Regions from separate parts of the Homo sapiens genome. Here region 2 is linked to region 1. Evidence: fine-mapped expression QTL. A gene starts in region 1. The other region holds a variant in brackets. All regions are shown on one strand. Distances are from middle to middle. Region 1 holds the start of EXOC7 (exocyst complex component 7). Region 2 overlaps ZACN (zinc activated ion channel).

The links. PIP is the estimated chance that this variant, and not a neighbour inherited with it, causes the effect.
Region 2: its variant is the best candidate, but not a certain one, in a credible set for the expression of EXOC7 in whole blood (INTERVAL, PIP 0.62).

Annotation. Positions count from the first base shown.
Region 1 is chr17:76,100,911-76,106,274 of GRCh38, forward strand. EXOC7 (exocyst complex component 7) reads right to left here and starts at 2,877. Exons shown (of 19, transcript NM_001013839.4): 1 at 2,723-2,877; 2 at 2,451-2,516; 3 at 769-953; 4 at 361-466. The coding sequence starts at 2,782.
Region 2 is chr17:76,080,551-76,085,914 of GRCh38, forward strand. ZACN (zinc activated ion channel) reads left to right here. Exons shown (of 9, transcript NM_180990.4): 6 at 728-852; 7 at 995-1,205; 8 at 1,332-1,499; 9 at 1,913-2,256. The coding sequence ends at 2,103. It overlaps EXOC7 (exocyst complex component 7), which reads right to left. Exons shown (of 19, transcript NM_001013839.4): 14 at 5,127-5,247; 15 at 4,764-4,859; 16 at 3,967-4,030; 17 at 3,698-3,739; 18 at 3,456-3,589; 19 at 466-3,200. The coding sequence ends at 3,098. Among named protein-coding and RNA genes, the nearest start is that of ZACN, 4.1 kb to the left of the region's middle. RefSeq lists an enhancer at 1-459 and a silencer at 544-744. The variant A/G (reference allele first, on the strand shown) is at 3,207.

The DNA of each region.
Region 1 (5,364 bases):
GCAGAGGTTGCAGTGAGCTGAGCACTGTACTCCAGCTTGGGTGACAGAGCAAGACTCTGTCTCAGGAAAAAACAACAACAACAACAACAACAACAACAAATCAAATGTTAAGTTTATATTTTATATGTAATTTATAATTTAATTTTTATAATACATTAACAAGTTTTATAATAAAGAATTTTTAATAATAAAAAATGTGCAATTCTTGAAGCAGAGATCCTAATGCCTATAGGATGTACTGTGCTATATCCTTCTGTGTATTCTACTGCATACATCCTCAAGCTGGCTCCATGTCCCTCATGAGACCAGGGCAGAGACTGATATCCCCAAGCTTCTCACGTTATTCTGCGGACCCCTTACCACTTTGTTGAGTTCCGGGCTGTCTGGGCTGTTGTCCTGGAAATACTCCACTGCCTTCTGAATCTTGGCCATGCTTCCCAGGTACTCTTCCAGCCTACCTGTGGGGCTGGGAAAGAAAAGAGCCAGGTCAGGCTGGGGCATGGGGGATGAAGAAGGACTAAGGACACAGTATTTGGGAAAAAGAAAATTAATACAGGGGACTCCAGGCTCAAATATATTCTATCCCCCCACTGCCTTTTAAGGCCTAGGGCTTAAAAGGCGTCTCACTGTGTTGTCCAGACTGGTCTTGAACTCCTAGTCTCAAGCGATCCTCCCACCTCAGCCTCCCAAATTGTTGGGATTACAGACCAACCCTCCTGTTGGCCCAGGAGGCATTAGGAATTGACCCTCTGGGCCTCACTCACTCACCCCTCTCTGATGATCTTCTCAGTGTCACTGGCCACATGGTAGTAGCTGATGACATGGTCCAGGCAGGACAGCGTCTTCTCAACATTCTCCTGCAGCCGCTGCAGATTCTCCGTCTGCTTGTGCACAGGGATGATGGAGTTCTCCAGCTTCATAAGGCGGCTCTCAAAGGATGATAAGATAGACACCTGCGGGAGGGAAGCCTCTTGATCTTGGGACTCACAGTGGTCCCAGCACTGCTTCTACACACCCACCTTCGGCATTTCCTGCCTTTTCTCTGGTTTTCTAGACAATAAACTCCACAAGCGAAGGAACAGGGTGTACCTGTTCCCCACTGTATCTTCAGCACCTATCATGTGCCTGGCATATAGTAGGTGGTCTAAGACAAATTGGTTGAAATTTTATTTGAAGGCAAACCAAGCATCAAATTAATTCTTCTTAAAATAATCAGCCCAAGATGGCTTCCCTTCCACCCTTTGAAGCCAAATCTCAACTTCTGTTCTCTCTGAAGCATTCCTAAACCGGACTGGAAGTAGTTTCATACAGAGTAGCCTCAAATGCATTGCTGTATCTTCAAAACCCTCTCTAAGGATGAAACTCATTGAATAAGGACTAGAGGCTGGGCGTGATGGTTCATGCCTGTAATACCCAGAATTTGGGAGGCTGAGGCGGGAGGTTAGCTTGAGACTAGGAGTTCAAGACAAGCCTGGACAACACAGTGAGACCCTGTCTACACACACAGACACACACACACACACACACACACACACACACACACACAATTAGCAAGGCGTGGTGGTGTGTGCCTACAGTCCCAGCTGCTAGGAGGCCGAGGCAGGAGGACTGCCTGAGCCCAGGAGTTAGAGACTGCAGTGAGCTACAGTCATGCCACTGCACTCTAGCCTGCACAACACAGCCAGACTCTGCCTCTAAAAAAAAAAATTTAAAAATTAAAATTTTTAGAAAAGGACTAGGACTTTATTATTGTGTGACTAAATGCAAATACAAGTTTGTATTTACTCACTTTGTGCTTTTCCAGTCTCCCCTAGGAATAAAGAAGGAAACTCACTTATTGAGCACCTATTGTATACCAGGCACTGTGCAAGATGCAGTCGCATGCATTAGCGCATATGACCTTCACAGACACACTGGGAGGCTGGCACAGTCTCTGTTTTAGCAGATGAATTCGCTGACACCAGTTACCTATCAGGAGCCGCACATTTAAGCAGAAGGGCAAGGACTAGATCCCAGATCTGCCTGACTTTAGAGCTCTTTCTTTCCCTAAAGTCCTCTGGAGTGAAGGCTGAGTCTTCTCTGCCCTCAGGAATCTCAAAGTGCCAACCTCCTGGGCAGAGAGTCCACTGACAATGACATATGCCCAGTACCTAGCCCAACTGGTCAGACTCACTGAGTGTTTGCAGAAGGAGAGAAGGAAGAATGGCGAGCTTAGACAGAAAGCAGCAAGTCCAGGCCAGTGGGAAGTGCAGCCTCCTCAGTGAGGGTACGGAACATGGGGAGGGGGCTAGGCAGGAGAGATGCCAAACTGTTGCTAGATAAACCCACACACTGCCTCCGTCGCTGCCCATTCCAGAACTCCAGGCCGCAGGAACCGGAACCGCCAGGTCGCAAGGCTCTCCCCCAGGGTCCGGAGGCCTGCCCTCTCCCCCAGCTGCGGGGAGACTCACCATGTTCTTAGTGAGCTGGTCGCTCTTCTCCAGGCTGTCTCGGATGAAGGACAGAGTCTCCTCCTCCTGGGGGCAGGCAAGGGGAGGACATCACCAGAAACCAGAAGCTAAAGGAGACCACTGCGTCCCAACCCCACGGCCTAGCCCCCAACCCCATCTCCTCGCTGGGTGCGCTCCCTCCCACCCCTGCCTCCTCCATGAGTAGACAATCAGGCCCCGCTGTTGGCCCCTTTCCCTCACCTCCTCCCCAGCCTCCCCAGGCCCACGCCCACCTGCTTCAGCTTGTCCTCAATCTCCCGCCGTCGAGCGGATGCCTCCTGTGGGGGAATCATCGCTCTGAACCCCGCGGCTCCCACTCCCCAGTATCTTTCCTCCGCGGGCCCACCGGGCCCCCGTCCCCGTCACACCCACTTCCGCTCTTGGTCCCGCCCCGGGACGCCTGGGCGGAGCCATGTTGGGAATCGCAGGCTGAAGTGCGCCTGCGCGGAGCCCAAGAACGGACCGACGGCCATTTTGAGCGTGGCTGGGAAGAGAAGTGTATTCGGATGCTGCAAGGGACCTCGACGCGGGTTCCTTGCCTCAGCAGAGGTTTTCGATCGGCCTTATGTCCCGCGGCTGGCAGGACACTTAGAGCTCACTTGCTGTTTTCGTTGAAAGACCGACCCTTTTGATAAAGACTGCTGGGGAAGGCGACGAATTCCTTTCCCCAGGTCGCATTCTATGGGCAGGCACCAAGGCCAATTGCGTTTCCCACAAAGCCCCGCACGGAGCAGGTGACACAGTAGATGCCTAACGTGTGTCCATGTAATGAACCAGGGGCTTGTGTACTTGTTTCCGCCTTCCACCCTGCATTACGCAAAAACGTATCCTGTGGGCTGGCGGGGCTGCTCCGGAGCTCCAGGCCCAGACCCAGCGTCCAACTGCAGCTCCAGGGGACGGGGTGGGGGGCGCCCCTGGATCAACTTCCCTGCGGGGCTGGATGTTGTGGTTGCAGACCCAGCTCCTGCAAAACCTCGAGTTACTCCTTCCTCTAACCCGTCCCTGCCCACCCTGCCTCTGGCCCCCAGCCTTGAGAAAGGACAAGGCCGACCAGCTTGGTTCAGTCCTTCTGTGGCCTCAGTGTCCAGACACCCGGAAGATAGACAAGGAGGCATGTGCTGGTAGATGAGAAGGTTTGGGGCGGGCAGGGGGGACACCAAGCTTTTTTTTTCCTTTCTTTTCTTTTGAGAGAGAGTCTCACTCTGTCGCCCAGGCTGGAGTGCAAGTGGCACGATCTTGGCTCATTGCAGTCTCTGCCTCCCGGGTTCAAGTGATTCTCGTGCCTCAGCGTCCCGAGTAGCTGGGATTACAGGCGGCTGCCAACACGCCCGGCTAATTTTTTTGTATTATTAGTAGAGACAGGGTTTCGCCATGTTGCCCAGGCTAGTCTCGAACTCCTGACCTCAAGTGATCCACCCGCCTTGGCCTTCCAAAGTCCTGAGATTACAGGCGTGAGCCCCTGCTCCCGGCCTAAGGAGAGAAGGAGAGAAGGAAGAACCCAAGCTCTAGGGTTCCCAAGCGCTCACTCCACCCATAGTCACCCGAAGAGGAGGAGGAGGAGGAAGTGGGTGCACAGAGCCTGGAGAGGGATGGGCAGCCTTCCCTCAGGCAAGAGGACAATTTCAATCCTGTTGTAGGTGGGGGAGATAAAAGGCTGATTCCTGTGTCAGGAAATACCCAGGATGATTTCGCTGACATGGTCCTTGTGTAGTCCAAAGGGCTAAGTAGGAGAAAGTTTAAACTGTTAGATGTCACAGAATAGAGTAGCGGGGCTAGTTAGCCGCTGTAGAGAGGGTGTTTTGGGCTCAGGTGGACTACCTTTGAGGGCCTGGTCCAGCATTTAACCTGAGTCTCTCTCTCTCTCTCTTTTTTTTTTCTTGAGACGGAGTCTTGCTGTGTTGCCCAGGCTCGAGTGCAATGGCGTGATCTCGCCTCACTGCAACTTCTGCCTCCCGGGTTCAAGCGATTCTCCTGCCTCAGCCTCTCGAGTAGCTGGGATTACAGGCATGGGCCACCACCCTGGCTAATTTTGTATTTTTAGTAGAGATGGGGTTTCTCCATGTTGGTCAGGCTAGTCTTGAACTCCCAACCTCAGTTGATCCGCCCGCCTCGGCCTCCCAAAGTGCTGGGATTACAGGTGTGAGCCACCGTGCTTGGCCTGAGTCTCTAAACAGTTCCTGGCCCATAGTAGATGCTTAATAAAAATACTGATAATAAATATTTTGCTCCGGCCAGGTGTGGTGGCTCATGCCTGTAATCCCAGCACTTTGGGAGGCCGAGGCGGGTGGATCACGAGGTCAGGAGTTCGAGACCAGCCTGGCCAACATAGTGAAACCCCATCTCTACTAAAAATACAAAAATTAGCTGGGTGTGGTGGTGTGCACCTGTAGTCCCAGCTACTCGGGAGGCTGAGGCAGAATTGCTTGAACCCAGGAGGCAAAGGTTGCGGTGAGCCGAGATGGTGCCATTGCACTCCAGCCTGGGCAACAGAGCAAGACTCCATCTCAAGCAAAAAAAAAATTTTGTTTTTTTTTTGCTCCATAGGTCTTGGGAATCCTTTATGTGCGTGAGGAAGCTAATATTTTCAAATCTGTACAATGTCATTGCATTTTTGTCAATCAGCTGTGTGTGCTTTACTGCATTTCCTTCAGTGTCTGAGTCTAATGGGGTTAGATACCATTAGTACAATACCATGTACTGAGAGTCTTCTGTTTGCCTGTCTCTACTACAAACATTGCCCTTGCTAATGCTCCTCTAATCCTTATCATAAACCTGGGAGTCAGGCCCAGCTGTCGTCTCCCTTGTGCAGACGAGGAAGCTCCGGCTCAGAGAAGTCAGCTGTAGTAAGTCAACACAGCTGGCCAGCAAAGGGTGA
Region 2 (5,364 bases), 20 kb before region 1:
GAACTCCCAGGTCTGTGTTCAGAGCAGTCTACCCCAGGCTTAGGCGGGCAGCACCTGCTCTCCCACTGCGCCCCCCACTCGAGTGGCAGCCCATCTCTGTGCTCAGCGGTAGCCTCAGGGCCCCTCTCTAGGGTGACAGACTCAAACATTCGCAGCAGCTCTGCAATCCCAGAGGTCCGAGCACATCAGTCTTCTGTCCTCCCCAGAGCAACTGCCCTCCACAGCCATGGCGACTGCAGTGGCTCGGCCCCTTGCAGCAAGGCCAGAGGCTCAGGTTGCCATGGCCTCACTCCTGGAAACCACCTGAAGGTGCAGCCACCCTGTATAAACCCATCAGGTGACATCTAACTTGGCAGAGAAGTCCTACCCTTCCCTCCATGAGAGACCACAGCGGTAGCCCTGGGGATCCTGCTTCAGCTGTGAGATGATAGACTGACGAGCCTGTGACCACTTCTCCCTCCATCATGAAGTGGTGCAAAGTACATTTATTTTTACAATGAAAGCTCATCTATGAATCTGATAAAGGCCTTCCTTCAACTGGAGACAATTTGGGATGTTGCAAAACAAGGTTTGGGAAGCCCTTCTATGGATCGGTTTTGTGTCCAAGTCTGTCCCTGCCAAAAGCCATCAAAAGTCTCCATCACCCCTGGGCTCCAGTCTGCTACCCCCAGACTTGGCAGCTGGGATCTCTCCTTCCTGGTTCATAGTTCTCATTCCCACCCCTCAGCGATGGAGTTAGAGTTCCAGGCCCACGTGGTGAACGAGATTGTGAGTGTCAAGAGGGAATACGTAGTTTATGATCTGAAGACCCAAGTCCCACCCCAGCAGCTGGTGCCCTGCTTCCAGGTGACGGTGAGTCAAGTCGGGAGGAGGCCGACAGAGGGCTGCTGGAGGCGGGTGGGAGTGAGGATGCACGGCCAGAGGCCAGGCCCCATGCCCCCGATGCCCACCTCCTTCCCCCCCGCCGGGAAGGCCCTGACTTTTCCCCTTCCAGCTGAGGCTGAAGAACACGGCGCTCAAGTCCATCATCGCTCTCTTGGTGCCTGCAGAGGCACTGCTGTTGGCTGACGTGTGCGGGGGGTTGCTGCCCCTCCGGGCCATTGAGCGCATAGGCTACAAGGTGACATTGCTGCTGAGTTACCTCGTCCTCCACTCCTCCCTGGTGCAGGCCCTGCCCAGCTCCTCCTCCTGCAACCCACTGCTCAGTAAGCCCTGCTCCCTTACCCAGTCTGCCCTGTTTCTCCCCGGTCACCCACTGGTGCTCAGCTCGCTGGGCACCAGAGACACAGGGACTGGCCCCTGAGCATCTCCCTGTGCCCTGCCTCCCCCAGTTTACTACTTCACCATCCTGCTGCTGCTGCTCTTCCTCAGCACCATAGAGACTGTGCTGCTGGCTGGGCTGCTGGCCCGGGGCAACCTTGGGGCCAAGAGCGGCCCCAGCCCAGCCCCGAGAGGGGAACAGCGAGAGCACGGCAACCCAGGGCCTCATCCTGCTGAAGGTGGGCAGGGGCTGGGGGGTAAGGAATGAGGCCTAGGTGCACACCTAGGGCTGGGGTGAGGGCACGGAGGTCCAGGTGTGGGTAGAGGCCCCTTGCATCCACCCTGCTGGCTCTCCTGTCCCTGGTCTCCACCATGTCCTCCTCCCTTAGAAGAAACAGGTCTGGGGCAGGGAGCAAGCTGAGCCTCCCTGAAGTCCCAGGTGACCTCAATCCCCTGATAACCCATGCCTTGCACAGCCTAAGAGGGTGTTTCTTCAACTGAAGATGGCCTGAAATGGGCCAGACCCAAATTTTCATCAGCTGAGAATCTAAGAAAGGAAGCGATACAGGCTGATGACCCCTGGGGTTCGCTCTTCCGCTCATGTTGAGGGGACCTTGAAGAACAGCTCCTTTCCCTGTATCTCTCCCCACAGAGCCCTCCAGAGGAGTAAAGGGGTCACAGAGAAGCTGGCCTGAGACTGCTGACCGCATCTTCTTCCTCGTGTATGTGGTTGGGGTGCTGTGCACCCAATTCGTCTTTGCAGGAATCTGGATGTGGGCAGCGTGCAAGTCTGACGCAGCCCCTGGAGAGGCTGCACCCCATGGCAGGCGGCCTAGACTGTAAAGGGGCAGGGCCTGGGCTGCACACCTTAGGATGAAGTTTGCTTTCCCATGGCTGGGGGCGGGCCATGACAGGGCCTCTGGATTAAGCCACCCTGAGCTCTCCCTCCGCTAGCACACAAGCACAGAGCGTGAAATAAACCCATCTCCAGTGCAAGTGTGCCTCAAGGGTCAGTCTTCAATCTCGTCCTAAATAGGTGGGGCCCTATTTTTTGCTTCCAACCCCCATTTTGCTCCTTAACTTTTCCCCATTGTCCCTGTCTCCCAGCCCACAGGCAGGCAGCCTAATTGCTCCTTCTGCAACCACGACTGCCTGGCCCTGGGCCAAGAGGCACTGAGGCTGGGGGCCAGAGACAGGGGCCTGAGGAAGGCTGTAGAGGGTGGGGCGGAACTCCTCCTCCGAACGCCTCCTGCAGTGTGCTGGACTCTAGGGAAAATGGCCAGTGAGCCTGCCTCCCCCAGCCACCTAGGGGACTCCTGGGAGGGAAAGGTCCCAGACCTCAGGCCTGTGGGCGGGCGGGAATGTGTTTTAAGAGAGGGGGTCAGTCCCGACTGCCTTTCCTCCAGGAGCTCTGGCTGCTTCTCTGAGCCCTGCCACATCTCTGGGCTGTAGGGGAGTTCTCTGTCCCCACCTCTGACCTAGGCTGGAGGGAGGGCCCTTCTGCCCTGCTGCTCTTGGTACACATGGAGCAGCAGTGGGCACAGGCCTCTGTCTTCCTTCTCTCTTTTCCTGTTTCAGAAGCCATCAGGGTCATAAAAGCCAAGGTGTGGAGGGACCCCAGGCTTCCGGGAGAGTGCTGGTTCGGCTGGGAACACGGGCTGTGGGGAAAAAGCAGGAGCCAGGACTAGGGGGCTCAGGGACACAGCTCCCGGAGGCGTGGAGACAGGTCTCTGTCCCAGAGGACTTCAAGCTCACCCAGCCCAGAGGCAAGCTAACACTGGTTTATCTGTCCAATGACACGCCAGTCTGGTGGAACCAGGCAGGGCTAGCAGCAGGCTCAGGCAGAGGTGTCGAAAAGGCGATCGATCATGTCGCCCACCTGCTCCACCCCGTACTTGATGTACTTCTCCGGGTTCTTGGTGAAGGGCACGCTGCCAAACCTGAGG[A/G]GGCACTGTGGTCAGGGGACAGGGAGGGCCGACCCCTCCCCAGCTCCACCCTCAGCCTAAGGCACTCCTGATAGTCTTGGAAGGGGTGGCCCTGAGCGATTCCCTGTCTGGCCCCGCCCCAAAGCCCAGGTCGCTGGATCTGCTGCCTAAATCCACCACCCTTCTCCTTTTTCCCTTGAGGAAGAGGAGCTTGAAGAGGCCCACTGGGGCTGTGGGCAGCACAGGCTGGGAGGGGAATGGAGGCCTCACTTCTGTAGAAAGGCCCCGTAGGTCTCCTTGACAATGGTCTTCTGGGCCTGGCGAATCCTGTCCCTCTGCTCTGTGTCTGGAATAGCCCAGGCCTTCTGGATTTTGCACAGTTCTTCGAGGCCATCATTGAAGCCCTGGCCACCAAAAAGGTGAAAAAGGAAGGCACCCAGAGACAAACATTTTGGGTCTGTGTTGCCTCAACAGCAGCAGCAAGCAGTGGAGGGGAGAGGACCCCGACTCACCTTAAAACGCTCCTTGATAATCTGCCGCTCCTTGTCCCGGAGCTGGGAAGCCAGGAGAGATAGCAGAGAAAGCTCACTTCAGAGCAGAGCAGCCTTCCCCCACTCTTCCCCAAACACCCTTGGTCTGGGCCTGTCTCCTGTGTCCTGATGGCCACATGCATCCTTTGCTCTCTGATCCCAGAGGGATGCTTGTCCACTTTTTCCCAGAGACACGACAAAAAGTATCCCGTCTGCCAGACACCCCTTCCCAGCCCAGGTCTTGAGCCCACCTTGACTCCCGGCTGGAACACAGGTAGATTCTTCTCTGCGATGTAATCAGTCACCTTTAACCAGCTGCCAGACAGAAAGAGAAGCATGAGGGCAGAGGGTGGCCTGCCTCAGTGGCCTGGCTTGTTTCGTTTGCTAAATCTCTGGATCTACTTGGTGGGTGGTGGTAGGAAGGGATGTGGGTCACAACTAAGCAAACAACAGGTTTTCTTCCTGGGAAGAGAAAATCTTTAAACTGGTCACTTTTTGAGATAACATTAGGAAACACTTGAGTGTTCAATAAATTGGACAAATACTGTCAACTATACTTCACATCAATATCGTGGCAAACTAAGATGGAGAAACAGATGAGAAAGAAAGGAGTGGAGGGCAGATAAATGAGAAGGAAGAGGTAGACACATTCAAAGGGAAGAAACAAAGCCAGGAAGAAAGAGGACCAGAGAAGCAGCGGGATCCTCACAGAGCAAGGCTCAGCCACGTTCAAGTGCTCTCGCGACCTTGCTCTTCTCCTAGGTAAACATTACCCACGTCTCTGAGAGCCAGCTCTTCAATCATTCTTAGCCTTGACACTTGGCAGACTCCCCTCTAAAGTGGCCATAGTGGGCCCCTAGGAGCAGGTAGTGGTAGAGGAGGGGGCTTCTCTCTCCACCCCGTGAGTTTGATTAGAAACCAAGTGGAGGATTAGGGTCCAGAGGACAGGAGTTCCCCGTGACCGACTCTGTGTCCTGAGGTGCTGAGAAGGAAGAGTGCGTGGTGGCACAGGGGCCCATGCAGGAGCAGGGCGGGCCCAGCCTCTCACCTGCGCTGGTAGGTCTGGATCTGCTGCTCAATGTGCTCCCGGTAGGAGCGCTCAGCAGTCTTCTGTGTCACTGCCACCAGCTGGATCAGTTCAGACCTGGGTCGGGGTAGGGGACAGAGGAGAGGAGGACAGGATTGGCTCCTCAGGCCCAAAGGCTGCGGCAATGCCGGGAGGGCCTCCCATTGCACCCCAAACTCCACAAGCTCTATGGCATCCCACCTTCCGGGTCCTGGGGTGGAGGAGACTGAAGCACCCCCTCCCCTCTCGTCCACAAGAGAAGGAGCCCAGGGGGGCAGGGGCTGGCACAGCTGCACAGCCGAGGGGAAGGTGAGAGCCGCAGACTCACTCCCGCAGGCCACTTACTTCTCCAGGGACTTGAGGATGTAATTGTAGTTGTTGTGCAGGAAGATGGCGCTCAGAGCTGGGTCCTCGTACACCTTGGACTTGCTCAGCAAGTTCAACTGCAGGTTGCCCAGCACTTTACCTGCACAGGGAAAAATGGGGCCACACCCACCATGGCAGTCTGACCCAAACGACCCCACCCCAGGACCCGCGAACGCGCTCCTATCCATCGCTCCTCGTCCTGCCTCAGGAGGCCTTA